Regions from separate parts of the Homo sapiens genome. Here region 2 is linked to region 1. Evidence: fine-mapped expression QTL. Tissue or cell type: thyroid. Region 1 holds a variant in brackets; the other region holds the start of a gene. All regions are shown on one strand. Distances are between the middles of the regions.

Evidence for each region. PIP is the estimated chance that this variant, and not a neighbour inherited with it, causes the effect.
Region 2: CHRM3 starts here. The variant in region 1 is fine-mapped to the expression of CHRM3 in thyroid (GTEx, PIP 0.97).

Annotation. Positions count from the first base shown.
Region 1 is chr1:239,279,318-239,295,830 of GRCh38, forward strand. No RefSeq gene overlaps it. Among named protein-coding and RNA genes, the nearest start is that of CHRM3, 99 kb to the right of the region's middle. RefSeq lists a silencer at 8,032-8,326. The variant G/A (reference allele first, on the strand shown) is at 8,215.
Region 2 is chr1:239,378,788-239,395,300 of GRCh38, forward strand. CHRM3 (cholinergic receptor muscarinic 3) reads left to right here and starts at 7,781. Exons shown (of 7, transcript NM_001375978.1): 1 at 7,781-8,440. RefSeq lists enhancers at 8,503-9,003, 9,004-9,504.

The DNA of each region.
Region 1 (16,513 bases):
AGACTAATGAGAAACATCTTCCATTCTCCCCCGAAGGCCCCTGACCCAAATGACTTCTACCAAAATTTCAAGGAACAGAGAAAGTCAAATCCACTCAATCCATTTTACAAGATGCTTATAAACATAATATCAAAACCATAATAGTTAGACTAAAAGAAAGGAACTATAAGTCCATTTTATTTGTAGCTACACTTTTGCAAATATTAAATATAATATTTCTAAGTTATTTATCACATACAAGAGTTGTTAACTAAAATAGTCATAGGTATTGGATTTTATCTGCACGTATTTAACAAAGCATATGATATTTTCTTCTTTAATCTATTCATGTGGTAAGTTACACTTACAGATTGACTTAATTGCTGGGATGTATATTTATCAGAAAATATTTGTTAAGATCCGCAAGGAGACGTGTACACAAAAGTCTATGACTCTAATTTTTGCATGTGATATTGATAATCTGGAAGCCACACTGTCCATAACTGGAAAAATTGATAAAAGAAAATGGGATGAATGCATACGATGAAAGAGTATGTAGCAGTATGAAGCATCCTGGATAGAAATTCAATACATAGCCTTGAGTGATAAAATAAAATAGAATAAAATGTATAGCATAATTTAATACATGTTAAAATACATACGCATATGAATGATACTTCTTTATTAAAGGAGGCATATATAACCAATATAATAATGCATATATTAAGTACCTTATAGAATACGTCTAATGGGAGGAAGGAAGGAAGTTGTTTCCAGTGAACAATGAGAAATAAAATACACAAGGGAAAAATGAAATGGAAAGCCAGCATCTTTATATGAACTAATGAGATGGTGTACTTTGAATTGAGGAGTCTGCAATTTCAAACCTATGCACTTGGGGAGCACCAAATTTTCCAAATAAAAATAAAATAGGAAGAAATGTCATTTTAGACTATGACTCACTGCCTTTCCTCTATATATGGTAATTATCCCCACACCTTTAAAGATACATTTTTTAGGCACCTTGAATTTCTGTTGGTTCAATGGCAATGTTATATTTTTATGGAAACTGACAGTGAAATTCTAAATGTACATTTGAGTGCACAACTGTGATGGGTCAACTTGGATAAGTGCCAACATAGAGAGTCTATAGTAGCCAGTAATGCAAAGTGTTGCTGTGAGGGGTTTCAGAGATGTGATTAACATGTACAGTCAGTTGACTTAGATAAGGAGATTGTCTTCTATAATGTGAGTGGGCCTGATCCAATCATTTGAAAGGGCTTACAAGCAGAACTGAAGTTTCCCCAACAAAAAGGAAATTCTGCCTCTCAGTGGTTTGCTCCCACCTGAGACTTTCCAGGCTGTTGGCCTACCCTATGAATTTCAGACTCTTCCTGCCATACCCCACAAACGCATAAGTCAATTCTATGAAATAAATTTATGTGTGTATGTGCACATGTGTCTCTATGTATGTTTGCATCTATGCATCTGTGTGTTTGTGTATGTGTGTGTGTGCACCAATCTCTTACTGATTCTGTTTCTCTGGTGGAATCCTGACTTATAAAAACCTCCAAACTTTAATTACCAAAAAGGCAACTATTAAAATTATCAACAAAATGATCACTAATTTCAATATTAATGTCGAATTTGGTATGAAGCTGCACAAATCCCAAAAAAACAAATATAGTCGACATTGAACAATGCAGAGGTTAGGAGCACTGGAGGCCCCACACAGCACACAGTCATAAATCTGTGTATAATTTTTGACTCTTCCGGAGTTTAACTACAAATAGCCTACTGTTAACCAGAATCCTTACCAATAATATAAACAGCTAATTAACACTTATTTTTTGTTATATGTATTATATCTTGTATTTTTACAATAAAGTAAGCTAGAGCAAAGGAAATGAGATTAAGAAATTCATAAGGAAGAGAAAATATATTTACTATTCAATTAGTAGAAGTGAATCATCATAAAGATCTTCACCCTCATTATCATCCTTACACTGAGTAGGCTGAGCAAGAGGAAAAGTAAGGGTTGGTCTTGCTGCCTCAGGGATAGCATAGGCAGGAAAGGTAGAGGAGGTAGAAGGGAGGTAAGAGAGTCAGGCACAGTTCCTATAATTTTACAAAAATATATTGTATTTTCTATCTGATTTTCTGCTTTTACATTTCTCTAAAAATGTTTCTATATGGTACCAATCCTTCTTCCATTGTTTGCTTTAGTTTCAGTGTCTATATCTTAGAAGGATCCATGTCATAAGAAGTCAAAAGCAGTCTTGAATAATCAAAACCCTTCTGCCAGATTATCTAATATCAATTTGTCAATTTTTTTTTTTTGAGACAGAGTCTTGCTCTGTCACTCAGTCTGGAGTGCAGTGGTATGATCCTGGCTCACTGCAACCTCCTCCTCCCAGGTTCAAGTGATTCTCTTGCCTCAGCCTCCAAAGCAGCTGGAACTACAGGCATGTGCCACCACGCCCAACTAATTTTTGTATTTTTAGTAGAGACGGGGTTTTGCCACGTTGGTTAGGCTGGTCTTGAACTCCTGGCTTCAAGCGATCCACCCACCTTGGCTTCCCAAAGTGCTGGGACTACAGGTGTGAGCCACTGTGCCCGGTCCTGGCACTGCTTTTTAAATTTCTTCTTCCTCATTGTCTGATACTGGTTCAGATGCACTCATCTCCGTCAAGTCTACCTCTGTTAATTCCTATGATGTGGTGTCTATTAGCTCTTGAATTTCTCTAAGATCCATATCTTGAAAGCCTTCCATCTACTTTTTTTTTCTGCCATATCCACAATCTCTCTAATAATTTCCTTGATTGATGCTGTTGTAAATCTCGTTACTCAGTTTCTCCAGCAGGAATTCATTGTGTAGGGCTTGATGGCTTTTGCATCTTTTTCTGTAGCAACAGTGGCATCTCCAATGGGGTAATCCTTCCAGACTTTTATGATGTTCTCTCTTTATTGGAGTTCTCTTCCATGACGTTGATAATCCTTCCCAAAGAGTATCATGTGTAATGAGCATTAAAATCTTTATGACCCCCTATCTAGAAGCTGAACTAGAGATATATTTGGGACTAGAAGACCACTTTGATACCTTCAGTGTTGAACTGTTGGGGTTCTGCCTGGCCAGGGGCATTGTCCAATATCAAAAGAACCTCAAAAGGCAATCCCTTACTGGCATGGTACTTCCGGACTTCAGGGAGAAAGCATCAGTGAAACTAACCCAGAAAAAGGATTTTTATTGTCCAGGCCTTCTTGTACAACCAAAAAGTCTGGCAGCTGGTTTATCTTTCCCCTTGAAGTCTCAAGGGGTGAGCAGCTTTACAGATAAGAGTAGTCCTAATCATAAACCCGACTGCATTTGCAGAAAACAGTAGAGTGAGCCTATGACTTTCTGACTTAAATTCTGGTGCTCCCTTTTCTTCTTTACTAATAAATGTCCTTTGCATTTTTTTTTTCCAGAATAAGGAACTTTTATCGTTAAAAACCTGTTCAGGCAGATATCCTTTATCTTCAATGATTTTCTTAATGGCATCTGGGAACTTCTTTGCTGGCTCTTGGTCAGCAGAAGCTGCTTCCCCTGTTATCTTGACTTTTCTTTAAGCCAAACATTTTTCTAAAATTATCACGTTATCCTTTCCTGGCATTAAATTCCCCAGCTTTAGATCCTTCACTTCCTTTTGCTTTAAGTTGTCATATAATGGCTTCAATTTTTCACAAATCTTATTAGTCTATAGGTATCCCTTTTTATAGCAATCCTGCACCCACATAAAAGCTGCATTTGGACACAAGATAAAAATGCATTTCGCAAACAGTGCAAGGTTTTTGCACCTGCTAGCATAGCAGCAGCAATGGCTTCATGAATTTCCTTTTCTCTTTTTTACAAAGGTCCTTACGTGGGATCCATTTATCTTGAAATGGCAGGTAACCACAGCTGCAGACCTCAATCCGTGGTGCCCATCAAGCACTGCAACTTTTTCTTATAATGTCATGACTTTTCTCTGCTTTTGGGAAGCACTTCCAGCATCATTAGTCACACTTTGTATGGCTCCCATGGTGTTATTCAAGGTTACGATATTGCACTAAACACAATGAAAAATACCTGAGAACTATAAGAGACCACTTTTACTGTGATAGTCAATTTGCTGGAAAGATAAACTACTCACGCAGAGATGATTGGCTTCACTAGGCGTTTTAAGCAGACACTCACAACGTTTTAAGCAGATACAACACTTGAGCTCACCACACTAGCAACAAGAGATGGCTACAAATTATTACAGTGGATGCACTACAATGAAGTTTATGCGGTTATGATTTAATACTGCATCTTTATGTTTGTCTACATTTCTCTCTGCTGCAAATGGCGCCATATACAAGTCTGTGTTTGTGTGCATAAGTTTTCATAAAGTTTTACTTTTTATAATAGATTTCTGTATGTTTTGTGGTAGTAAATGACATAACAGATAAGTATCTACATATATTTTATGCATCCATGACATACATAATATATTCTTCATTTTTAAGATATTTCTAGGCTATGCTGTTTGTCTATGAGTTTTTTTCAAATTGTCACAAATCTCCACAAAATTTTGCAATATGGTTATTGAAAAAAACTTGCATATAAATGAACCTTCAAAGCTCAAAGCCATGTTGTTCAAGGGTCACCTATAGGCTCTTTTGATTGATTTCATTTCTACTACGAATCAAATATGTTTTGAATTTCTGACTTTGCTGTAGGAAGGCGATTTTATGTATGAGTCTGTACTCAGAGATTTACCTCATTTTATGAAAATTATCTCTTCATATTCTCAAAAGTTAGGTATTGACACCCATCTTCAGAGATGCAAGTATGTGCAGAGAGTCAGGAAAATTTCAGGTAGGCAATTGTTAAGCTTATGTGGGAACAATAATTTTTTATTAACAGCAAAAATTTTCTTAATTTTTGTCTATTTGTGAACTGCTTGCTTTCACATTCAGTAATCAGCCAGTAACTCCTTCATTTTGGTATGCTCTGTTTTCAGATGTGTTGAAAGCCTTAGTTTTTCTTTTTCATTGTAATTTCAAAATATTTGTTCAACTCTCTCAGCAAAACAATTCTTCCTTTACTACCCCTTGGGGAGACTGGACCAAACTGTCACTAGTTCTTTCTTTGAAATGTCAATTTTGCTGTTTGAATAGTTAAGCCATCATGGAGGAGGTCAGAAAAAGAAAAGCATCCACTAACTTTATTCTTTTGTCATTCTCTTCTGCCCCTCTTTCTGCTCCCGCTTATGGTGTAGTTTCTATGTCTGGGTGCATCTGTGTGGCTGGGAATTGGCTAGACTTTAGAACTGTTGACTGTCCCTGCCTGGTGCCCTGGTGTCACCTGTATCATCTTTGCCCCTGGCCACGGAAGATGGAGCGCCTCTGTTTCTCCCAGTACTTCCAGTTCTTTATGAGCTTACCTTCTCCACTCGTTCCAGTTAAAAGTCAGTCTGATCGACTTTCCTTGGAGGTCACTCTCTGTACCTCTTTCTCCTTCAGCCACTTGAACCTTCTGTTCTTCTCTTTGACAGAGAAGAAAATGTGTTTACTATAAATATTACACATTCGGAAACAAAATATTTTGAATACACATTCGTTTCTGAATGCACACATCTATCATCTCCCCTAAACAGATCTTGAGATGTAGGTAAGGGGAAACTAAAACTTAGATAACAAATACAATAGTAACAGAAATAAAATATTTTCTTCACTGGATCATATAAAGGAAAATACAGACCTTGTTTGTTTTGTAGTCTTGAACAAATTACTTAACTGAGCATCATCAGTAAAATGGAAATGATATCCATCTTGCAGAATAATTTAATGATTATATATGTAAAGTGCCTGCTGCATGTTTAACCAATGGTAGCTTGTTAATACTAAAGTATTACTAACTTTCCTTCCAGAAAGGACTTAAGTACGTCATCACAATTTATTATCTCTTCTCTGTGATCTACAAACCAGAATCACAAGATGGGCTGAGGATCTCACCTCTATCCTCCTTAAAATTACTTCCCTACCCATGCTGCATTAGTCTGTTTTCATGCCACTGATAAAGACATTCCTGAGGCTGAGCAATTTACAAAAGAAAGAGGTTTATTGGATTTACAGTTCCACATGTCTGGGGAGGCTTTATAATCATGGCAGAAGGCAAGGAGTAGCAAATCACATCTTACACAGATGGCAGCAGGAAAAAAAAAAGCTTGTGCAGAAAAACTCCCATTTTTTAAAACCATCAGATCTCATGAGACCCATTCATTATCACAAGAACAGCATGGGAAAGACCCCACCCCCATGATTCAATCATCTCCCACCAGGTCCCTCCCACAACATGTGTGAATTATGGGAGCTACAAGATGAGATTTGAGTGGGGTCACAGAGCCAAACTATGTTGCATGGCTTCATGAAGCCTTAATATTAGGGCATCTTTTTTCCTTGCAAGTTGTTCAAGTCTCTTGACCCTGTAATATCAAAATGAAAACATCATTGCTGTCTTCCCCAGGAGTCTCATTCAATTTGGACTTTCATATAAAATTGTCAATGTGTGAATACAAATTAGGCAACCCCCTGCCCCTTAGAGAAGAGAGAAATGTATTTTTGTCTATTCTTTACAAAGATTTTAAGCTGATTTAGCTGGAGAGGTCAATTTGTGACTGATTGTATTCAACATAGCCAGCAACTTATATATTTGGGATGTATTTAGTTTGAGGATCTGCCTTTGATTTTTTTCATTGAATTGAAAGACACATATGTAGTTGAGCTTCTGCTGACTTTTTTTTTTCTTAACCCAACTAAGTGCTACCTAGATGGCAAAGAGATCCAGCAACAGAATTCAGAAGAAGAAATGAAGTAAAAACACAGAGCTAGACCCAGAACCCATACTACGGACTTGACCTTCAGGCACCTGCTGCTACACAGAATGCATCACAATTAATTGGAGGAATAGCAAGACAACCAATGAGCAGAGGGCTGGACCTCACTCATTCATAGAGGCCTTGGCCTTTTCAAAACCTGTCCCTCCTCCACAGCCTCTGAGATTGGTGGGATGGGAACCCAAGAAAGGAGAGGACTTGTTCAGAGCATGCCAAGCCCCTCCATTTTAAGCACTTCTCACTAATTTCAAACATAGAAAATGAGAAGAGTTACAGAATCAGTACTAGATGGCAACAAGGTGGTTGGGACCCAGCCAAGAAGGGAGATTTGACACAGAAGACTTGAAAGCAGTGATTGAAATAACAGTAAAATGTTGCATGTCTGTATCCCCAAAGTAGTTTAGATGCCACCATAAGCCAATTGACTGTATGATCACTTCTATTTATTCTCATAAATACTACGTACCAATATGGATAGTACTTTCATGCAGGATCCAAAAATATTTAAAAACTACAATTATATTTACATAAAATAGGCATAAGTTAGGTTAGACTGAAATAGATCAATATTTTTAGACCAGTTACATTTAGATGGTAAAATATTTATGTGATTTTTTGTCTTTTTCTCCATTGATCACTTATTCAATAAAGTGTTTGTGTAGTTTGTAAATTAAAATATAATTTTATAAACCATAAGGATGACTTAAAATTATTTATTCCTATCTCTCACCTAAGTTTTCATCTAATTGACATAAAATCTCTATCCTTCCCTTCTCACTCAAATTCCTTACCTTTGTTCTCTCTGCTTTTCCACTTGGCATCTCCCATTCAGCCTTCAACCCTAGCTTTTACCCTTGAAATTGTACACAGTCTATTCTTATGAAGATAAAAGTCTTACCCTCCTCAAACTGATCTCATGCACAACCATAAGAATGATCATCTTAAAACTAATATCTTATTACATCCACTCTTCCTTTCAAAAATCTGTCAATGGCTTAGCTTCCCATTGCCCATGTTACGAAGAACTCATTTTTGCATTTAAATTAAAGCCTTTCTTTCTCCCCTGCTCTGCTCTTAATCATTCTTTCACTCCCATTTACTTTTATCTCTTTTCTGCCTGTCTCTCTAGCCTCACCTCTCAACTCATCTTTTCTTCAAAATTTACACCCCAATGACACTAGTATGATTACAGCTCCCTACAAACATAATCTGATTGTTTCTTCTTCATTTCTTTTAGGCTTGCAAAATATTTCCCCTCTTTCTGGGAAGGGCCTCACCCTTCTCTCGCCTCCAAGATTCCTGCATTCTTGTTGAGTATTGAGCTCATCCGGGA[G/A]GCCTGTCCTGAGACTCAGAGGATTGTTGAAGTGTTCTTTCTTTGTGCTCCCATTTCCTCATTAAAACTGTTATGGAATTGTCATTTTTTTGTTTGTTTACCTACGTCCACCACTAAACAATGATAAGTTTGGGAGCAGAGATAACGTCTTGTTCCCTTTTGTATCTCCGGTGTTTAGACTATTGCCTGGCACGTAATATGATTTTAGTTTTTAAAATGAAAGAATTAAATCATTAAACTACATTTATAGTATGCATTTATTCCAACTACTATAAATTTGGTTGAGCACTATCATATAGCTCATAGATTGAATGCTTATCCACAAACGATGTCATGATAAATTTTATTAGATGCTTTGTTATGCAAAAAGGAAAACACACATTGATTATACCATTCTCTTAGGGGCCACATTAGAAATGATGTTGAGAGAGGAAATGACATGTGTCTGTTATGCTCCCATATATGGCCTGAGTTGGACACACTCACATGAGACACGATGCGTTGACCTGAACCAAGTACAGAAGACGGATCATCTTTTGCCACCTCTCTCCCCTTTTCAGACAGTCCATTTCTGACATGGTTAGTTCTACTGTCCCAGTTTACAGATTCCTCTCCCATTCTCTTGGAAATGACTTAATCACAAAAGAAACTTAATAATGGCAACTTCTCAAGCCATGAAAAATGGCCCTCAGAATAGTTCACCTTTTTTTTTTATTATACTTTAAGTTTTAGGGTACATGTGCACAACGTGCAGGTTTGTTACATATGTATACATGTGCCATGATGGTGTGCTGCACCCATTAACTCGTCATTTAGCATTAGGTATATCTCCTAATGCTATAAAAAAAAAAAAGAATTGTTCACCTTAGTCATTAAATAAGGGCATACTTATCCACCAACTCTCCTTTCTCTTTGGTCAAGGGTTTTTTTTTTTTTACTTCCTGGTTTGTCTCACCTCAGAATGCCTGAGTAGGTCCCTATAGGCACCTATGTGGGAGCAGCAGAGAATTCCCAGGGCAAAAAGTAGGAAATACGTGATACAGCTGAGGCATAGTATGTGAGGTTGCATTTGCATAGTGGCGGTCAGACCAAACATAGAATAACAAGGTGGACGAGCAAAGATGACCCAGGTACAAAAAGTGTCTAATGTAAGCAGTAATAATAGCAGCATTTCTGCTTTTCAGTGGGTAAATGAATGAGATGCTCAGCCTCCCCAGGGCAAGAGAGGGAAAAGGGGAGCATTGTAGATGAAATAATCATTGAGTTGTACAAAATACCAGCTTCAGCCTCAATGAATTACTATAGTACAGAATGAAATGCTTTGGCAAAGTCAATGAATAAAAAGGAGAGATTATTCTATTTCCCTTCCTTGGCATCTTACTTACAGGAATAATTTCATTCTGACTCTGTGTAATGAGGTTTATGACCCTGGGCAAGTGAGTGACTTGGCTGGGCTCCAATTTCTTCATTTATAAAATGAGATGATCACTGAGTTCCATTAGAGCTCTAACATTAAGATTTTATGAATCTATGTGCACACAATATACTAGAGTTTAAACTCTGAATTTCCAGAACTATGCAAGTCTGTATTATTGCACATGACTGTTCTAATGGATTCTCTACATTTTCCCAGTGCTTGGAGATCCCACTGCATTTTGGTTTTTCTTCTTCTGTGTGCTGATTATAATGATATATTAATTGCTCTGGAATTTCCTATTTATAGAAAGAAAAGCCTCTGAAGAATGCATTCAGGAAAAGTGGTTTATATGGATTATATGAAAATCTTAGCATGTATGCCTTTGGAAATACTCACCTATAACTGCCCATTTAATGACTAATTTCCAGAGCTTTCTCATCAGAATTACAAATAACACTGAATGCTTTCCCGTGGCCTCCAGGTTGCATATGGTCTGAGAGACTAACTCTGCTTCCTCTCCTCCTTCCACTCTCCCTCCCTTCCCTAATTCTAGCCACACTGGCTCATTTTCTGCACCTTGATCACATTTAGGCTTTCTGCCTTAGTCTTAAAATCATGTTCTTCCTGCTTGGACTCTTCTGTTTGTCTGTATCATCCCTTCTTCTCCTGATTCATCTCTCAGAGCAAACATCGCATCCCTGGAGATGCCTGCCTGAGACATCCAGTCTAAATTTGCTCCAGCCACACTCTATTGCTTCATTTTATGTTCCTTTTCAGAATTATTATTGTATTTTTTAAGTTTATGTGTAGTAATATATTTATTTCTCTGATCCTCATAAATGGTAAATTTCATTCTACCTTGAATCCTGAGTTCCCAGGAGAATATCTACAACATAATAAATGTAGGATTTATTTGTTGGCGAAATTAAATAACCACTGAGTGGTACATGGGTCAACATTCAAACGAAAAAGAACAAATACAGAGCTTGAAACTAGAATTCTTGTTTCAATTCTGTCTCTCATGTGATAGTATATAACCTGGGAATAATAAGTACTGTTTACTTCACAGGTTGTTGCTTATGTTTAGACTTTATATATAGTTACCTGAAATCTCTACCTTCGAGAATATTCGAGAAGAATCCATTCATTCTGTCATGTTTTATGTTACAGTGTGAATCTTCATCACTATTAGCTGTGAAAACTTGTGCAAGTTACTTAGCTCCCCTCAATTTCCTTACCTACGAAACTATGGTAATGACAGTACCTACCTCAGCTGTTAGATTCAGAGTACTTCGGAAATACCTGACACATTGTAACCACTTTATAAGTGTGTTACTTGTTTTCATTGTGTGTCAGCTTCTTTTCCTATTAATAACTCTGATTTAAGCTTAATCATCCTCTGAGGCAGCACTCAAATGCCAGGTCTTCTGTAAAGCCTTTACTTATATCCCTGTTTGCCTATTCCTTCCCTACTACATTACACAGAACATTAGTGATTTCTTACATTTCATTCCCTAGTCAACACTTTAAAACTTGCTTGCTTATTTATTTTCTTTCATAATATAAACTAAAGGATCATCATGAATTTCTCTAGTACATTCATTCAATTCTAGTACATTTCTAGGCCATTATTTTGTGGATAAATGTATATTTCCGCAAATAGATGGAATTCTCACTGTCTCAATTTATTTAAAATATTCATTTAAAACATTTGAATAAAACAATTTTCTTTTGTAAGCATCATTGGTCATGAATAGAAGGAAAATCAATTTTTAAAAATAGATTTGAGAAAATATTTTTAAGTCAATTGCCTTTTGATTTCAAAATACTTCAAAAGGTTCATTCTTCTTGGACTATAATTTATTTACTAAAATTCAAAATGAGATATCTGAGAAAAAAGTTATTGCATTAAATAAGAAAAAGCCTGTATTTTCAGTCCCAAATGGATGTATATCTGCTATTTTATCAGAAGATTTGCAATTTTAAAATAAATTCAAAAGCTTCCACCATATTTCTTGGTAAAACTAAAATAGTTATATCCAACAATGAAGTGCAGAGGCAAATACTATACACAAATCATAATTTTCATGTATTTTTTCAGTTATAGTCCACAGTGCTAATTATTTTATTTTTATACTTGTGCTTTCTTTCTTTCTTTTCTTATTTATTTGTTTATTTTTTTGTTTTTTTAGACAGCTTCACTCTGTCACCTGGGCTTCAGTGCAGTGGTGTGAGCTTGGCTCACTGAAATTTCAAACTCCAAGGCTCAAGCAATCCTCCTGCCTCAGCCTCCAGAGTAGCTGGGACCACAGACATGTGACACCACAACTGGCTAATTTTTATATTTTTTTGTAGAGATGGGGTGTTTCCATGTTACCCAGGCTTGTCTCGAACTCTTATGCTCAAGCACTTCACCCACCTCAGCCTCCCAAAGTGCTGGGATTACAGACGTGAGCCACTGGGCTCAGCAAATTTTTCCTAAATGTATTTAGAAGTTGAACAAGCATAATTATTTTATTTATTTCTAGTCAGTCATCTTTTCTATTTCCTGTAATAACTGATCAAAAATCCTCTATCCATCACCCCAAGACCCCAGGTATACACATGCAGGATCTTCATCTGCAGATAAAATCTGATATGAGCTTTTTGATTTCTTTCTGCCTCCAGTCATAAAACTCTTGGTACTCATTTACATTTACTTCCTTTCATTCTGTGTAAAATGAAAGCATCCAGTTTCAAGCTCAATCCCTTCCTGTGCTTGACTGATTGGAGTAAAAAGACTATTAGATATACTTCATTTAGATACACAGTACCTGAACATAAATCCCTGAACCTAATTTCGCTCACTTAGTAATCACAGGCCAATGGGTTATTGAATTAGCAATGTACACAGGAAAGTCCTAAATAAATTGATTGTTTTCTTCTGCTTTCTTTTCCCTCTTAAATTCAAAACTCTCTAAGACCTCAATTGTCTTTTTCTCTTAGTATCTGTTCAATGATGGATGATTCCTTTTTCTTCTGTTCCTCTCTAATATATTCAATCTCTCATTTTTAAATTTTCATCTTGTCTGTATTCAAATTATGCCCCTACCAAAAACACACACATAAAGAAGGAAACTATACCAAATTGCTTAAGATCAGTGATGAAGAGAAAACCTTAAAGCAAACAGAAAAAAACTGAATTATATGCAAAGGAACAAAAACACACATGAGAGTAGTTTCTTGTAGAAATAAGACCAACCAGAAGATGGTGAAGCAAAACCTTAAAAGGAATGAAAGAAAAAATTTCAACCGACATAATAATGTACATTTGACCAAATTAAATTCAAAACCAAAGGCAAAGACAAAAACTTTCTAAGAACAAGAAAATGGAAATAATTCAGCAGTAGCAGACCTGCACTGTAAGATATATTTAAAAAAAAAGAAAAGTCCTTCAGGAAGAAGAAAAGTGACAGCCCCTGGAAATCCAAATTTACAACAAGAAAAGAAGAGCACTAGAAATTGTCACTATGTGAATAAATAGAATTTTTTCTCACTAATTAAATCTCTTTAAATAATAATTGATTGTTTAAGGCAAAAATTGTAACAATGAATTGTGAGTTTTGTAACATTCATCAGAAGTAAAATGTATAAGCAAAAAAAATCACAAAGAAGAAAGAGATAAGCAGGAGTATATTCTTGTAAAGTTCACAGGGAAGTGGTATCATATCACTTTATGGTAGACTGGAGTAAGTTAAAGATGTATGCTGTAAACCCTAAAGAAAAAGAAATCACTAATATAATACAATAAAGAGTTATGGTTCAAAAGCCAATGGAGCACGTATAATAGAACCATAAAAATACTCAGTGAGTTCAAAAGATGTCAGCAAAGAGGGAAAATTGAACAATGAACACTGGAGAAAAATAGGAAACAAATAGTAGAATGACATACTTAAGTTCAAGTATATCAAAATTCACATGACATATAAATGCTCTACTGACTCCAATGAAAATACAGAGATTTTCAGATTGGAGAAGAAAGCAGGACCCAACTATTAACTGCCAACAAGAATCCAAAATCCATTTTAAATATAAAGACACAGAAAGTTAAAAATAAAAGATGGAAAAAGATGCAGTATGTTAACACTAATCCAAAATAATCTAGAGTGGCTGTAGCAATATCACACAACATATATTACCCAGCAAAGAGTATGAACAGAGATAAAGAAGGTCATTTCAAAACGATAAAGGGGTCAACGCATCAAGACAACATAAAGTCCCGTGTTTATGAACCTAATAACAGAGCTTCAACATTCATGAAGCAAAAACTGATAGACCTGAAAGAGGAAATAGAAGAATCCACAATTATAGTTGGAAACTTCAACAACCCTTTCTCTATAATTGATAGGACAAATAGACAGAAAATCATTAAGAACATAGAAATATTGGCCAATATTATCAACCTACTTGACCACCCCGCAGTTATGCAGACTACCCACCTTTTCAAGTATATTGGAACATTTAAGACAGTGTTTCATGAAAGAACTGCCAACAAATCTAAAAGAAAGAAACATTTTCCAGACTAACTTTCTCTAAGAAAAAAAATAATTTATTCCTGGCCACTTATTGCACAATATTTTCAAACGTTTGCCTTAGATCATAACAGTTTTTCATGTCAACACTTACAAGTTCGTATCAAAATTTCTCTGCTCTTTTCACCATTGCCCTCTGTCCAAATTGCTGTCCACCTCCTTTGTGCTACCTTGGAACTTTGCCCATAACCGTGTCATAAAACTTTGCCTGTTGGAATCAGCTAGACTGTGAATTACCCTCAAGCCTCATTTCTTTTTTATGGTAAAACCTATGCTGACTTCTCAGTCTTCATCTTACTCTAACTCTCAGCAGCATTTGACAAGATTGATTCTCCTTGTTTTTTGAAACGCTTTCTGTCCAGCTAGCTGTCATGACATCATCACATGCTCTCAACTTTTCTACAACTGCTCTGGTCTCTGCTTATCCGCCTCTCTCTGGTCCAGGTGAACCTCCCCTGCTGGATTCATGCTGCTGGGTATGAGAGTCCTGCATGAGGTATGAGAGTCCTTTAAGTATGTTCTATTTTATTCACTCTCATCTTTCTTTAATATCTCTTCCAGTTCCGTGGCTTTACAAACCATTTGCATGCTGACAGACCCCAAATTTCTTTTTTTTTCCTTTCAAGAGTGAGACTCCCTTCACTAGAAAGAAAAATAAAAATTTTTAAAAACACCAAATGTTTATCTTCAGCACACACATCTCCCTGAACCCCAGCCTCTGACATCTATCTGCCTACTTGCCATTTCCACTGGCATGTCCCAGTCCTAGCCTGTCCCAACATGAGCCCTGAGTCTTCTCTTCTCTCAAACCTTCTCCTAGCACAGGCTTTCACATTTCATTAAAGGTAATTCCATTCCTGCAGTTGTTCAGGCTAAAATCCCTGGAGTCATTTCCAGCTCTGTTCATTTGTCTCCTGTAATATAGCCAGTCCCTTAGCAAGTTCTCTGACCCCTGTCTTCAGAATCTATGCAGAGCTCACACCTACTCCACTGTCACCACCCTGGCCCAAACCACCGTTCTCTCTTACCCGGATTGTCATAGAGGCTTCTCAACCTGTCTTCTAACTGATGCCCTCACTCTCTTCAGCCTGTGCTCAACATGGCAGGTCATGTGAGCCTGTGATTCAAAATCTGCTCATGGCTTCACATTACACTCGGATAAAAGGTAAGCCTATTGCAAAAGTCTAGGGTCTTTCAGGGTTTCACACCCCACCTCCAGCTCATTACCTTTACTCTTCCTCTGTGTATCGCTCTGATACACTAGAGCTTCCTCACTGCTGTTCAAATATCCCAGGCAAAATCCTTTATACTTGCTATTCCTTCTGCCTAGATACAAGGGTGTCCAATCTTTTGGCTTCCCTGGGCTACAGTGGAAGAAAAAGAATGTCTTGGGCCACACACAGAATACACTAATGATAGCTGATGAGCTAAAAAGAAAAAAAAATCACAAAAAAAATCTCGTAATGTTTTAAGAAAGTTTATGGATTTGAGTTGGGCCATATTCAAAGCTGTCCTGGGAAACATACAGCCCATGGACCTTGGGTTGGACAAGCTTGGCCTAGAACATTCTACTCCCAATTATCCGCATGGTTCATTATCTCACTGCTGCCAAATGTTGACTCAAATGTTATCTTCCTAGAACAGCCCTCCCTGATGGTCTCTAGGGAGATGAAACTCCCCTGACCACCTTTACCTCCTTCCTACTTTATGTCTTTCTGTAAAACATATCACCATGTGGCCCATTATATATTTTAGTTATTTAATTAATGTATTGGTTCTCTCTCCTCCCTAGAACATAAGCTCCAGAGGGCGGGGGTTTTTGTCTGTTTTACTTACCACACTTTTCCTAGCACTTAAAACAGTGCTTGATACATAGAAGGCACTCAAGAAGTATTTGTAGAAATTGGAAAGGTATAAAACAAGTGAATGAATTAGTGCATAAATTATTTCTCTGGACTTAACCTCATTTCTACAATAAATGAAAATCAGAGTAAGCATTTATTGACATGGAAAGGAAAGCCTGGGCAAAGAAGACAAAGTTAAAATGAGAAAAAGGACAATAAAGATGAATGAAAGACAAAAGTAATGTACAATTATTCTCTTTTCTAGTCTTCATGTCTGATTTAGGAAAAGAAGAATTGTTTTGGACAGCTTATGCTATTCTTTATTTCAGCATAAGCACTGAATTTTTATTTTCATTTTTCAAGCTCCCTGTGCCCTACTTTCTTTACGTTTTTAAATAACAATGATCCACCCCCTCAGATGGGTTCTGTCAGCTATCTTGACCTTTGTCTCAATCTTATTTTTCTGT
Region 2 (16,513 bases), 99 kb after region 1:
AGTGGGCGGAGATCATGCCAGCTTAGGCGACAGAGTGAGACTGGACATAATAACAATAATAATAAAAATAAATAAATAAAACAATTATCTGAGAGGAAAAATTTGATTCATAATAAAGAGAATAAAGGTTTTTGGCGTGTTTGTTTTGTTTTCACCTAAGAACAGCTGTTCCCCTCATTGGGTTAGTTTTATTTGCAAGCAGAAATCATCTCCGCATGATTTCCAGGGTGATGGAAAACTGAATATGAATCCACCTTCTGCCATCTATTCACTTGTCACATTTAATAAGACACTCATGCCTATTTTAGCATGTTTTCTTCCCTACCAAATGAGTTAGTAACATCAAGAGATTAAAATAACACAAATAAGAACATTGAAGGTATTCAAATGTTACATACAAATATTAAACACAATATTATTATAATTATTCCTGGAAATGACATTGCCTCTACTCTCAAGGTAAAGGTCATTTTTCTTGATTTAAACTTTTTTCTCAAGTTTGAAATCTCTAAGTTTCAACCCGTAATCTATTTGCAAGTTTGTGCAAATTTTAGGGATTGAATCCATAGTAATTAGTGATTTATTGTGGTGTAGGGAGACAAGTCAAAAGAATCAGGACTGCTAGGTAGATGACTAAGGAAAGGATGGTTCACGAGGTGACATAAAGCACTCAGAAGAAAAAGGTCAGGAAACGGAGGACAGAAAAAAACCTAAGTTCTGCTGGGTGATGCTGAATTTGTCATCACAAAATCTGCATTGTGGAAGCTTTAGCTATTGAGGAGATTGCTCAAGTGTAGAACTGAGAACAATAGGCAGTGAACCCGAGAGAACATCAAGAGACTGAGAGAAAATGAACCAGACTTCCAGGTGCTCCATGTTCCAACCAACATTTTGTATTGTCAGAAGGAATTGAGAGGCAAAAGGAAACCCAATAAAAAATAAAACAGGAAAGGGCATACATGATTACCACCCCTTTTCTCACCAGCTGCTCATGGACCAGCTTTCTCCTAGTGCTATTTTCTTGGTCACTGCATCACTCTGCTAACATAGTTTCCCCACTAGCTCTGAGGCTGTCCCAGAGGGGAAGCCAGCTGTCATCTCCTTCTTCCACACTCTGTTGGAGGAACCTGTCATTAGCAGCTCCCTACTAAACGCATTTATGACAAACAGGCAGGAGATAATTAACTAGAAAGTGAACAAACTCAAACTTCAGAGCCTCTCATTTGTATGAATGCCCTTGTAAGGTCTTGGGCCTATTTTAATATTTATAAATGTGTTATTTTCTTCTAAAGAAAACCACCAAATTGTATAAGCTACAGAATCTGCAAAACTGAGGTCCATCCATGCACTCAGGATACATTCATAGCATCTCTGAGCTGGAAAATATCTTAAAGGTCATATATGTCCTCCAACACTGCAAGAATCTCTCTGGCAGCATTCTTTTAAAATCATCATCTAAAAGAGGGAAATCCCCAGCTGTGTTTGGATTTTGCTCTGTCACTTGTCCAGTTTCCCCATCCATAAAAGGGCAACAATATGAATTTCCTGATAAGGTAGTTGTTAATATAAATACAAAGTGCGTAGCCACTTCCCTAAGAAAAATATGGGGTTTCTGCTTCACAGTCTAGGGAGAGGAAAAAAAAGGGGGGTCAGAAGTGATTATTATTATCATTCTATATTGGAATGTTTTCAGACATAAAAAGCTCACCACGTCTTAGGCCAGACAGATGCATTATGAAAGTTAAGCTAAGTCTTCCTCATCATGAGCTGCACCTATATCCCCATTACTTCTTCTAGAACTGCATAATTTATTTATTCTTTCTTCAAAAGTTTGAGAGAGCCATTCTTGTCCTCTAAGATTTTTTTTTTTTTTTTTGGAGACAGAGTCTCCGTCTGTTGCCCAGGCTGGAGTGCAATGGCACTATCTCAGCTCACTGCAACCTCTGCCTCCCAGATTCAAGTGATTCTCCTGCCTCAGCCTCCCGAGTAGCTGGGATTACAAGCACGCACCACCACAACCAGCTAATTTTTCGTATTTTTTAGTAGAGACGAGGTTTTACCATGTTGGCCAGGCTGGTCTTGAACTCCTGACCTCGGGTGATCCACCCACCTCAGCCTCCCAAAATGTGGGGATTACAGGTGTGAGCCACTGCACCCGGCCATCTTCTAAGACTTCTATGGAGAGCTACATCCTTTAACTATTGATTGATGTCTTAGTATCCCTAGAGCACCACCTAGTATCTGGCATTTAGCAAAGTCCAAAGAGTGGTTTCAAGTAAGCAAGTAAAGAGATTCATGAAAGAATAAGTGTTTTTCAATCAATCACTTTATCCTTAAATCTGGTAGGTTAACTCAGAAGAATGAAAATAGAGTACTAAGGCATTATTACTTCCTGTAATCTGTTTACTGTTTAGTCCCTCAATGGGAAGAAAGTTTTCTAACAAATAACTCCAAGTTTTGGTTCAATAAACTTTGCAAAACCAGATATCCACATTCTTGAGAGCAGGAATTTGATGTTCCTTAAGTTTCAGTTCTCCATCATGTCTGGGCCCTAGTACTTTGTATCTAATACTCAATATACAATTTGGAAAATCTGAGGTATAATAAACACACAGTAATGCACACACATTTTAAGTGTGCAGTTTGATGGATTTTTACATATCAATTTATTTTAGTAACTACCACTTAGCTCAAGATAGAACATTACCATCACCCCATGTATTTTTATTTCCCCATTTTTGTAAATACTCTCTTCACTCTCTTCTAACCAAGTAACTCTCTAACACCATAAATTAGTTTCCTCTGTTATTGACTGATTTGATGGCTGCTAAGATTAAAATAAAAGTGTGGGTTTATATCTGGACTTTCTATTATTTTCCATTGGTCTATTTTACTTTCATTCTGACAATACCATAATATCTTGATTTCTGTAGCCTTATAATAAGTTTGGAAATCTGATAGTAAGTCTAAACATCCAATTTTATTCTTCAATAATGTTTTATCTTGGTTCCTCGTATATACATAAAAATTTCAGAATCAGCTTATTAATTTACACACACACACACAGCCATTTATATTTAATGTAATGAATAACACAGTTGAGTTTTAAATTTACTATCTTATTATCATTTTCTCTTTGCCCTATCTGTTCTTTGTTCATTAATTCCTCTTTTCCTGCATTCTTTTACCTCAGTCAGGTATGGTTTATAATTCAATTTTATTTTCTGTATTACCTTTTTTGTTGTGCGTTTTGATGTCATTCTTTCATTGGTTACACTTAAAACATCATCCTTAACACTGTTACCTTAAATTATCAAACGCAAGGATCTTATATTTATCCTTTTAAGGCTGTTATTCTATATTTGACTTTAATAAACAGTATAAGCCCCACAAGATACTCTTATTCTTTATGTGTCAAACAGTTAGTCTTTTATAAATTCTCAATCATTTACCCTTTCTGGGGCTGTTTATTCTTGCTTACATTTCTGTGATTCAATGTGAGACTATGTCCCTTCAGCTTGAAGAATAACCCTGAGTAAATTCTGTAGTTTATAGTCAGCTAACAATGAAGTCTCTCAGTTTTTGTCAGTCTAAATCTTTTTCATTTTTCGATTCTTTTCAATGGACACAGAATTCTGGTTTGATAGTTTTTATTTGTTTCTTTCTGTACCTGAAATATATTTATTATCTTCTACCTTCCATGATATTTCTGCTGAAATCAATGTTCATTTATATTGTTCCCCCAAAGGTGATTTTTTTAAACCTCTGGTTGTTTTTAAATTTTCTTTTTCGTCTTTCAGCAATTTGACTCTCATAGGCCTAGATGGGGTTTTCTTTGCCTGGGGTTCATTGAGCTTCTTGAATTTCTTGGTTGATATCTGTATTAGTTCATTTTCATGCTGCTGATAAAAACATGCCCGAGACTGGGCAATTTGCAAAAGAAAGAGGTTTATTGGACTTACTTCCACGTAGCTGGGGAGGCCTCACAATCATGGTGGAAAGTAAAGGGCACATCTCACATGGCAACAGACAAGAGAAGAGAGCTTGTGCAGGGAAATTCCCATTATTAAAACCATCAGATCTCATGAGACTTATTCACTGTCATGAGAACAGTACGGGAAAGACCTACATGATTCAATTATCTCCCTCCCACAACATGTGGGAATTATGGGAGCTACAAGATGAGATTTCGATGTGGACAAAGCCAAACCATATCAATACCTTTCGAGTTCTTCACCATGATTTTTTCAAATGTTGTTTCTGCTAGTCTCTCTCTCTCTCTCTCTCTCTCTCTCTCTCTCTCTTCTTTCTGCTCTCTCTGGATATTTTCTATTGATTTCTATATGAGACCATCAGTTTATTTGTGTAGTATCCAGGTGGTTTTTAAACCTATGTAATTACTTCTTGATTTAGCAATTCAACAAAGTTCATTTTATTATTTTTATGAAACCTAATATCCTGCTGAAATGCTCTGTTTTTTAATCCATTTTGCCCATCTCCACGGTAGTTCATGGTTATTTAAAAGCCCTTGCCTATTAGTTCCAAAATCTGTGTCATTTCTTGAGCTCTATTGACTGTATTTTCTTTCTTTCTTTCTTTCTTTCTTTCTTTCTTTCTTTCTTTCTTTCTTTCTCTCTTTCTTTCTTTCTTTTTTTGCCATCAGGTACTCTTTTCTGCTTCTTTGCATGTCTGGTAAGTTTTGATTGCATGCAGCATTTGTAGAAATTTTAGCTTATGTTTTCTTCCTCTCATAAACTTTGAGTTGTGTTCTAGCAGGTGGTTAAATCATTGGTAGATCACCCTAACCCTACAGAAGCCTAGTTTTTGCTTCGTTCAGTCAAATCTATTTCAGTTTATTCTTTCTCTTAGGACATCATCCTTCTATCTAAGGAGTATCCTTCAAGGGTTTCATCCTAATGCCTGAGGTGTTCACCAAAGTCTTTCCATTCTGACTGGAACCGAACTCCAACATCTCCTCAGAATTGTGTGATCTCTAAAATGTCCACTCAAATTTCAGCCTCTCTGCCACTGCACTGTATCTGTCAGGTCTCTAGAATAATGCCTCTGGACACATGCAGCCTAGCAATTCAGCTAACGAACTGAGAGGAATTGCCACACAGACTTCCGGTGCTGCCTCTTGGTACTCACCTCTCTGTCACCTTGCTTACCTCCAGAAACCTTAGTTACTTTATATAGCTCCAAGCTCTTGAGCTATATGCCCTCTGCTCAGTGAAACTGCAGCTCTCTGCTTATTCTCAACCTCCCAAAACTTCTGCTGAAAAAAATATCCCCTGAGGAAAAATAATCCATGGGAATGGGCTCATTCCATGTGCCTCCAGTTACCCCAAATTGCAGCACTATGTTGGTTATGGTTCAGAAGTAAAAAATGTTTGATATAGTTTTTCCAGGTTTTATAGCTATTTTATGGTAGAAAGGCAAGTGAGTGCTATTAGCTAATTGTCCAGAACCAGAGTCTCATTTCATAACTGCATAAATCCTTTGCTTATCTTGTGTATTTTTTTAAACAAACCTAAAATGCAGGATTTCTAAGTATTTTCCAGTTCTAGCTGATTTCCTTCATTTTAGATGAAAATCCAAAGGTAAATACTCTTTGGTTTCTGATTTTTGGCATCTTGTAAATAAGCATTGCCTCCAGTTTGGTTCATTCTCAGATCTATTAAGTATCCCATTTATATTTTCCTCTGAAATATAATTTGATAAATCTGCTGAATGATCGGGCACCAAGGTCAGGACCAATACCTTATTCAAGCCCAGCATGAATCCACTTACCAAGAAACTGGAGGCAACTCTGTCTAAACTGTAATTTGTTTGATACAAACATGCCATCTACATTTACCTTGTCCATAATGATAATGGGAAGGTTAGCTGAAATCAGGAAATACTGTATTATGAGTTTAGTGACTATTTACAAGTGGAAATGAATTTAATCTGGTATGATTTATTTTACTAAATTGTAGTTGCTTCCTTTTCTTTTCTCACTAGTCACAAATGATTTATTTCAGTATCTTCTCCAGAACATTGCCAGAGGCCAGTCTCAAACTTAACCATTGTATACATACCAGAATATTTTCATTAAAAATTAATAACTTTTGTCTTTCTCTGAAAACTACATAATCACTACTTGTCCATTCTTTTGGTCCTTGCCTGTTCTTTATGGATCAATATTATCAAAGCTACTCCTGTTTCCACAGGCAAATAACAATTCTATGTAATGGGAAAGATATTAAATCCGAATTCATGTTCCTCTTACTAGCTATATAATGGACAATTAAATTATTCCTTTAAATTCCTTTCTCCTTTAGTACACAAGGATAAAATACTCATTTGATTGTTTTAAAGATTAAAGAAGTATCTGAAAGTAACTGTTATATTTTCTTCTGAGAGGTATCCCAATAAAAAGGCTACAATATTGTTATTATTATTACTATTCTAGTATCCTGGATGCAATTTACCTAAGCCTAGATATTTTAATTAATTTAAGTAGCCACATGCTTTCTCACTAGCTATTTTCCCAGCATGATCTCAATCTTTTCTACGCAAAGTTTAGTCTCTTCTCTCCTAAAGATTGTTCTACCTAGAGAAGAATATAGGTTCAGAAAGGAATTCATATACTGGTGTTTCTCTAATCTCTTAGAATTACTTAATTTTTCAAAGAGCTCTATCTTTTCCTATTTATCTTCTTGTTCCAAATAGAATTAAAATCATTTGCTGCCTTTAATATTGTTAAATATTTCATTTCATACTATGCTTCAATTTCTTGCTTTTTTCTTCTTTTTATCTTCCTCCTTCCTTCCTTTTTCTTTCTTTTCTTCTTTTTCAGTTATCATTGTTATGCTTGTCCTTTCTTGTGAGATTCCTCTGTTATCTTTCCTTATGTGCTTTTTAAACAAAACCTCGAGAGTGCCGTGGGACAGCCTCATTGGTATCTTTTCAAATTTGGTATCTCTCCACTTTTTCCTTACATAGTTAGCTGGCAGTAGTACATAATAACCTTTTCTGTCTCTCTCTCTTTCTTTCTTTCTTTCTTTCTTTCTTTCTTTCTTTCTTTCTTAGATTTTCATTCCTCTTGAGCTTTAAAAGACTGGCTAGCAATGTTATATCTTTCATTTTATTTTCTGATTTAAAAAAGTGTGTGTGTGTGTGTGTGTGTGTGTGTGTGTGTGTGTGTGTGTACGCGCGCGCGCGCGCGCGTGCACGTCAGTGTCTTCTTCATGGATGCTTGTCTTATTTTCTCCCAAGGTGTAACTGTCCAGGGAGGGAAAAGTCAAGTCGTCCTCTATTACACTGCTCTGCAGAAACAGACTCACTAAATGTCAAAAAGTAGATGCATCAGACTGTTCCTTAGAGAAAGGTTTGCCATGGAGTCGTATATTGTAACTGAGCTGAAGTTCACTCATCGATAAGTTGTGCCCAAGGAATCGAATTCCTTCCAGTCCTTCTAAGCAGTCCAGGGAAACCAATTTAAAAGCGAACACAACAAAACTAACAGACCGGCAAAATCTATCTTTGAAGCGCCGCGGGAGGCACAATTTGGGAACAGGTGAGGCCATGCTGGGTGGGTGAGGCCCCCCTCTCTCCTGCTTGGTGTTCCGCTTTCAGCCAACCCACCCCAGGAGTACCCTGGGATCTCCTCGCCCCCTGCCAGGCGGAGAACGCGGAGCCCAGCGGGCACGCGGGAATGGAGCTAGGCGCCGGCAGGGCAACTGGGCATGCTCAGAAGCCGGGCAGGTTTTGGTCTCAAGCACGCAGCCTGTGCATTACACCAGCTCTCTCAGTCCGGGGAGGAGGAGGAGCAGGAGGAACGCGAGGAGGAAGGAGAGGAGGAGCGGCCAGCAGTAGCCACGACCGCCACCACCAGGCAGAGGAAGAGTTCGTGGGGAGGAAAAGACCTCTCCTCCCCCTTGGAGCGCCTTCTCTCTGCTTTTGGAGAAAGGGAATACACGATAAAGAAGGAGACGGAAAGAAGAGAAAAAGTGAGGCGGGAGACAGAGGGAAAAGGGCGTGAACAGAAAGGGCCGGAGCGTGCAGGGGAGCACAGGGCGCGGGGGCGGCACTGCCGAGCCGGGAGCGCTGCCGCTTGGGCAGGTGCCGCGGCCGCTGCCCGGAGGCGGCATGTGACGCGCGGCCGCAGCTGCCCGCGGGCGGAGCGCTCTCAGACCCCGGAGCGCACACCGCGGGGCCATCGGTGCCATCGCGGATCTCCAGGCTCCTCATCAGTCCGCCGGGGCCGCAGCAGCGCTTCTGGGAAGACGGGCGATGAACTGAAGGGCGGCTCCGGGCAGGGGGGCACGATCTTAAGGACAGTCGCTCCCTGAACGCGGAGCCGGAGGAGACGAAGGGAAGGTGGAGCGGACGCCACCCGCGCACCGGGCAGGCGCGGAGACCGGCGTGGGACAGCCACCTGGAGCGCAGCTGCCAGGTAGGGACGGCGCCCGCCACCCAGGCGCTGGGCAGAGCGGGTGGCGGTAGCGGCTGACCTGGTTTCTTGCCTTATCTCGTTGCGAAAGGAGGAAAAAGTTTTCGGCGCGGGTAGGAGAGGTCTTGTGTTTGGAGTCCAAAGAAGGGGCTGGGTAGGGACGAGAGAGGCTGTTGATTTGGGGAAGATGGGGGCACTTGAATTCCGACAGCGCGATCTGGTGCGGAGTTGGAGTTCTGGGACTGAGGGTGGGGAACGCCCGCTGGCACTCAAGTGCCCCGAAAGGGACGGGAATCATGCGAGCGGTGGCCGGGAGAGAGTCGGGGACGTCCCACCCCGCTCTCCCTCGCTTCGATTCTCTCTTCGCCACTGCCGGATCTGAGGCTCCAAAGTGCCCGAGCATGAGGAGCTACTGGGCTCCGGGTGTGTTTGTGAGCGCACTCGTGTGTTGAGCGTTTGTCTCCCATCTCCCCATTTGGTTTCCTGTCATTTCTAAGAAGGCTAAAGCTGGCACCCGCCAACCTCGCAGTGGGGCCGCAAGTTCGGATTGCATTTCAGGGGGCGAGAAGGCAAATTTGGCACTTCGAGTAACACTTGGGCGAAGGTACCTAGCCTAGTGCGCATCTTTACTGACCCGGGGAGAGTCTGCACTCGCGAGGCAGCGGCCGCTGGACTGCACCGGTTCTCCTCTTTGGAACACTTCCTCAGCATAGCCTCCTAATAGCGAGGTTAATTTTTGCGTGTTTTTAAACGGCGGGGGCGGGCGGACAGTTGACTCCAGCAGCAGAATTCACTTGTCTACTTCGCGGTGTGCGTGCTGGAATTGAGATCCTGTTCTGCATGCTTGTGCGTGTGTCCGACTCTCCTTGCACGCATTTGGAAGTGGTAGAGGCAGCAGGGATTTGGGAACTGCATCCATATGGATAGGTTTCAAGAATGCAAACCTTCATTTGTCTGCAAGTGTTACTGGAACCTGTCCAAAGGCTGCAAGGATATGTCCCCTCGATCCCCGCCAGTGTCCGTGTTTGCAATGTGAAAGGGCGGCCCTCTTTAGGACAAAAATGTATTTATCAAAGCGATGTGTGGTTAAGAACACTGGTTATTTCACCATATGCTTTGCACAGACTTTTCCTTTCTCTCTTGCCCTCTGAGTTCCAAGACAGATAACCTGTCCCCTCCCCCCATTTTGACCTTTGTAGGTTACTATTTGAAAAATAATTTTTAACTGGGTGCAGTGATTATATAGTCCAGATAATTTCATATTGTGAGATCGTTATATCGCATGAACCATTCATCATTATTTCCTGTGTTTAAAACAATGCCCATGTATTTACTTAAGAGAGACTATGAACATATAGTTCAGAAAGGGGAAAACTAAACCTAGAGCAGATACCTGCATATAAGCGTATTGTAGTGGTAGCACGTTAATAAAAAACTAAGGTATTTCTGTTCCAAATATTGTGGGATAGACGAGGTGTTGAGTGCACCCTCTTGTTATAAGAGCTGATATCCCGAAGTATACATGTGCAAGGAACATGCCTGCTTCTTCAGTGTGCATTCCAACATGCCACAGAAATGTGGTTTACATCATAGCTTCTACCGCCGAATAGTCTATCTTTAGATTTTGTTTACATGGTTTGTCTCAATTAGCTTAATACATAATTAGCTATTGTTGGGCTAGAAAGCACGTTATTTTTGTAGTGGTTTCCATATGGAAATATAACGTTCGCTTAATTACTAATTTAAAAATAATGACATTGCCGGTCGGATTTAGAATGTTTCTCTAGGTTGGGGGGTATTATGAGATCGAATGTAGCACGAAAATAGCAATGTCGAAATATTGTTTTTTAAATAACGTTGCGTCATTAATCGAATGAACATGACAGTTGAAAAAGAAAATGAGATAAAAAGTAGACTTTGAAAAATCTTTATAAATTTTCTGTGTGGAAAATTATTGTAAGGGAAAAATGTAATTTGGGAAAAGGAGCAAATGTGGAATTGGTCAAGTTTTAAAGAAAGAACAAGTGTTATAATGAGTAGTTCTGTATTAAACCTACATTTAAGCTTATTTAGGAAAGTTTGCTTTAAAATTTAGAGAAATCTATGATGAATATTCAGTACCCTACTTTTATTCTGGGGTAGGGGGAAGTAAAATGTCACTTCAAAAGTATTATTTACTTCTGAAGATTATTTAGGCATGTGTAAAAGTTCTTTAGAGTGTACCTTCTCATTTTTTCCTTATAAAGACAAATGATTTAATTTCTTAACAAAGAAAATTTGTTATAAATTAGAGTATGTAAAAATGTGAAGTTCTTTTAATGATATTTTAGCCTTTAATTGCAGGCAACCTGTTGAAAGAGGGCATGGAAAAAATGTGAAATTGGCAGACATAGAATTTCTTAGATTCACACTTGTAAATTGAATAGACAGAAAGTTAAACGATATGGTTAAAAGCAAAGTTGCCTTATGTATTTGTAAATTATAAAGTAATACATATTTTCAGATTTTTAGTTAAAATCTCTGTCATTTTCCCAGCCAACATATTGTTCTTGCCTAATAACTTTGTTAACATTGGCAAGCTCAGTTGCTTACTGCTAAATGGCCTGGACGATTCCAGTGTGACTATTAAGAAATTGGGTCTTGTTTGCAGTGCCGGGAAGTTTATACTGGGAACAGCTGTGGTGTAGTGGCACTTTAGATAGGAGATGAATGAACCGTGAATCATATGAAGATGGAGACTGATCAGTATGCAGAGAAGTGTATCTGTCCTTCACTTATGGAACCTGATTTTATATCATATGATGACTAATAGCATTATTCTCACAGTGTGATTTTGGAGGATCAGTGAGTAACTAGAGATGTTGTCTTTTATGTTTGTGAATTTAAAATGTATTCTCCTTACATAAGACTATTGTAAAAGGTATCTATGAGCTTAATAAAATTGTAATCAAATCCCTCTACCACGTTTACTTTTAAAAGTTAATCAGCATAATAAAATGTGCCTTTATGCTTAATTGTTTAATATAGTGTTTTCCTAGATGCAATATATTTTTCATCTATAAAGTTCAGCAAGTCCAGCAGAAGCCCTGTTCTGAAAAATTACTAGCCTTTCAGAACTTTGGAATAAAATTTCAACATCAATGGAAAGTTTTAATTTTATGAAGAGATAATCTAATGTATATGACAGGAGGCAAAATCAGTTAAATTAGAAGTTAGTTTCTGGTGTCTGAAAGGCCCTATCTTCTCCATTAGGGAATATATCTTTGTTCAGATCAAATGCTAAGCAGAGTATTTCTTCAAATCACTCATCACTGCATTGCTCCCTCTGCCCACCCTCCACGGAGAGGGTGTGCAGGTATGAAAGGCTTCCCTCACTTTTTTTTTTTTTTTTTGAGATGGAGTCTCACTCTGTCGCCCAGGTTAGAGTGCAGTGGCATGATCTTGACTCACTGCAACCTCCGCCTCCCAGGTTCAAGCAATTCTCTGCCTCATGAAAGGCTTCCCTTTTCATCAGTGAACTAGCACCTGGAGAGCTCTGTTAGCCTGCTACCTTCCCTAGCAGTTGCATGCCCCAGACAGTATAGATCTCCATTAGTGTTGTCTTCAATGCAAGAAATAAAAATAATTTTGGTCTGGGCACAGTGGCTCATGCCAGTAATGGCAGCAGTTTGGGAGGCCAAGGCAGGAGGATTACATGAGGCAAGGAAATCAAGATCAGCCTAGGCAACATAGCCAGACCCCATCTCTACAAAAAGTGTAAAAACTTAGCCAGGCATGGTGGCGTGCACCTGTATTCCTAGCTACTAAGGAAGATGCAGTGGGAAGATAGCTTGAATGCAGAAGTTCGAGACTGCAGTGAGTCAGGATCATGCCACTGCTCTCCAGCCTGTACGAGAGTCTGAGACTCTGTCTCTACATAATCATCATCATAATAGTAATTTTGGTTTGGTGAAGCAATTGAAAATATTAAACCATAATGTGGCTTATGTGATAACTGTGTGACCTCAAACATTTCATTCCCCACTGTACACTTGAAGACCATAGTAGTTGCCCTGTCCATACCATGGATTGGTTTTGAGAATCCAGTGCATGTGGATGTGCTTTTTGAACAAACTCTGAAATGCAGTGCTTGATTGGAACCCAGAGCCCCCTCAGTACACCATGATGGACAGCACTGAGCGCCAGTATGTAGTGGCCCTCTGGCTCAGTTTTTGGCCTCTGTGTGTTGTTTTCTATCCAGAAGTTTTGGCAGCTTGCAGATTCCCCAGCCTCTGGCAGGCTCTCTCTTTTAGGCTGGCGATCTGCATTCTCCCACCTGTTGGAACTTCCCGCTCATCCCCTCCTGAAGGCCAAGGACTCTGGCTGACGTGCACCTTCTTAGCTTCCTCTGCTGAGGCTGCAGCTGCAGCTTGCCACATTGACACAGACCTAGGGTCCAGTAGTGATGACAGGAAGTCAACAGAAGGAATATTCTGAGCCCCTGCCAGCTTCTCACCAATTGTGCCAGTTCATCCTGAAGCCATCCGGAATATGAACACTTTGAGAAAAACAATGGTGGCCAAAAATTAAAAACAAAAAACAAAAACCAATTTGATAAACAGTAGCTGGCAGATGCCTTGTGGGCTTTGAGACCTTGCCTTTCCAAGCCTGCTCTGCATGGGACTCAGGAGCCTGGCCCTTCTGATTCCACAACCAGTGCAGAGTCTGTCCTAACCCTAGTGAGCTCTAGCAATTCTCATGCCCCCCTCACCTCAGTTTCTCTAACTCCTGTCATATTTACCATTTCGTAGGACTAGGATTTTATTGAGTTTTCAATTTGCACTTTCAGTACTGGATTTAATGTCTGGCCTGGGAAAATTTTAGCTATGACCTTGGCAGTCAGCCTCGCCCTTGCCAAGAACTTCTCTCCAGGAGCAAGACCCCTTTCTTTCTATTCTGTCTCTGATTCAATCTCAGTGTGACAAACCCTTGGACCTAAGGCACAGCTCCTCTCCTGACAGTGCATCATTTCCGCCTGAGACTTGTAGTGCCCGGTTCCACTTGACAAATAAATTCTCCTTGTCTGTCATTGTTGGCAGGATCAAATCTCAGTTCTCCACACCTCTCCCAAGCAATGTAATTTGAGTGGCTGACTATCCACTACAGAATTAATCCTTCATTAGGTCATTTGTTCTAGCCCAGTCCTAGCCTGCTTCCTGTCCCCACTGTTCCCTTGAAATTTGGCATGCCAGCTGAGCCATGACATCGTCTACCTTCTGTCACCTCTAGCACAGGAAGTGGTGCTAATGTAGACATCCTGGTTCAGGCAGGATATCCGCCGACTACTGCTGTTCAGATAAAATTCAGGTGAGTTTAAACCAAGGTGAAATACTTTCAGCCTGTTTTGGAGAGAGTTCCCAGAGAGAGGGGCTACCAAGTGTGTACTTCCCTGCATTTATGGCTGTGAAGTGTTTTGGTGCTCTTCTACTGAAGCCTTCTAATTTACCATAGGTAGCTATGGCTATAGACATAGATACATATAAAAATATTCTGTCACTAAACTGTAGGAAAAAGGAGCTGCTAACAGCCTTTGTCTACATTTTTTAAGACTTGTCACTTTGGAGTACATTTTCTCCCACTAGAATTGCCCATGGGATCCAGACTGGAGGGAAACCTGGTTACTGCTAACTATTAATACATACAGGCCAATTCTTGCCCACAGCCATTTGACATTCCATCGAGCTAGCTCTCACTTCCATTGAAACCTAATCCAGTGGTATTTTGTAGACTCACAATCCATATAAATTTTGGCTGAGCATAGTGGCATACACCTGTAGTCCCAGGTACTCGGGAGGCTAAGGCAGGAAGATCACTTGAGGCCAGGAGTTCAAGGTTATAATGTACTATGATTGCACCTGTGAATAGCCACTGTACTCCAGCCTAGACAACATAGCAAGACCCCCATCTCTTCAATAAAGAAAGAAAGAAAGAAGATCCCATATAAATATTAAATATTGTTGGGTTTTTGGCTTCAAATTGACAATATGTTGATGACTATATTTAAATGTATATCCATAGTCATTTAAAAATGTTATTGAACACAGTCTTTTTTGTGATTTTTCAATTTTCTTAGTGCAAAATAGTCTAAAAGCACAACTTCTGTTGTGGGAGGTCTCTCAAACGATTTACATTGAAAAGAAGTTCTCATACTTGAAATAGACGTGATGATCCTCCTGCCGTGTTTCCTGTGCTTTCTCACATGCCCGATAACACATGCCACATGCAGTAGCTTGTGTGAAGGGAGAGGTGATGGGAATCTGGAATGGCCATGATGTTTCTTTATATGGAGTCCTCCTTTCTTCTCTCCTCACCCCAGATCCTTTCCATCATGCAAGGACCAGCCAAACTCTTCCAGCTTTCCTTGAGCGCAGCTATCATTCTGTTTTTCCCTGTGACTAATTATTTTAAATCCCTTGATTCATTTGAATGTTAGAAACTGAAAATCGGTCTGACTAAACAACTACAAATCACTTCCCTCTACTCTGAATACTAGTGGCACTCACCATTTTTAATATAAAATTTGATGCTCAAGGATAACCCAGGTAGTATTTATTTTGATTCTCTCCAAAGAAGTTACCTTCATGAGAGTATATAAGTAAATATATAATAAATACATGTTTGAGTAGAATGAGTAAATGACTCAATCATTCCATCTATCTACCTATCAATTATCTATCTCTTTATATCTAATCCACCTATGTTCATTTACATAGGTGTTGTATATACATCCATTATCACATCTTTCATATCAGTATCATCTAATGTGCAAAGTACCATGGACATTCTGTTTTGGATACACAGTAAGTCAAGGGCTCTGCTTTTCAGAGCATATGATCAATGTGAGTGTAACTAAACAAATCTGGGTTGGAAGGGGATGTTAGATGTTGCGTGAATTTCTTAGGTTTTAAAACAGAAGTTTATTCTTTCACAATTCTGGAAGCCAGAAGTCTGAAATCAAGGTGTTGGCAAGACTGCACTTCCTCTAAAGACCCTAGGGGAGAATCCTTCCTTTCTTCCTTCAGCTCCTGGTAGCTATCTGCATTCCTTGACTTGTGAGCATATCATTCCAATCTCTGCTTCTGTGGTCACGTTGCCTCCTCCACCTCTTTCACTGTCTCCTCCTGTATATGCCTGTCTTATAAGGATATGTGTGATTGCAGTGAAGTCCCAGCCAGAAAATCTAGGATAAGCTCCTCCTTTCAAGAGCTTTAACTTCATCACATCACATCTTTTGTCATATAAGGTAATCACAGAACCTGGGGATTAGGAGGTGGGCACATCTTTTGGAGGGACCGCCATTCAGACCACTGCAGATGTCATTAATGAACAACTTTTGGCTTTGGACCTCTCTCTTGTGTTAAACTGTGCAGTCTGTATGTTTGAGAAATTAACACTCACCAGGGGGGTCATTCCATTTTCACAGAGCAGTGAGATGCAGATCCCCTTTATATTGAGCCAAAAATCTAATTCTCATTGTACTTATTTGCCTTCTTAATAATTCTGAGAATTATGATGAGAACACTTCTGATCTTTCTTCCACAAGAAAATCTTTAAAGTTGAGAAGTTTAAAGTTATTTCAACCTGGTCCTATGTGCCACTTCTAAATTTTCATGATTTTTCTTAACCTTTTCAATTACACTCACCGAACAGCAATCACACTCCCCTAATCTCATTACCCTCTGACTTTAAATCTTTTGACTCCTCTCATCCACCTTCATGAGGTTTATAGCAATGACTTCTCCAAAAGTCACCTGTAACCTCTTAGTCATAAAACGGGTAGCCCTTCCTTGTCTGTCCTGGTTAATCTCTTAGCAATCCCTTTAAACTCCCTTAATTTTCAGAGAATTATACCTACCTAGCTCTCTTCTCTCCTCTGGTTCTTTTCTCTTCTTCCTGTTCCCCACCCCTATTTTCTGCAGAGTGTAGGGCTTTCCAGCAATTTCTCCCTGGTTGACTCCCATACTCTTCCGTTGCCTCTCCTTTTGTACCTGCCTCTGTCTTCACGATTTCAAATACCCTTTCCATGTGGGTCACTTG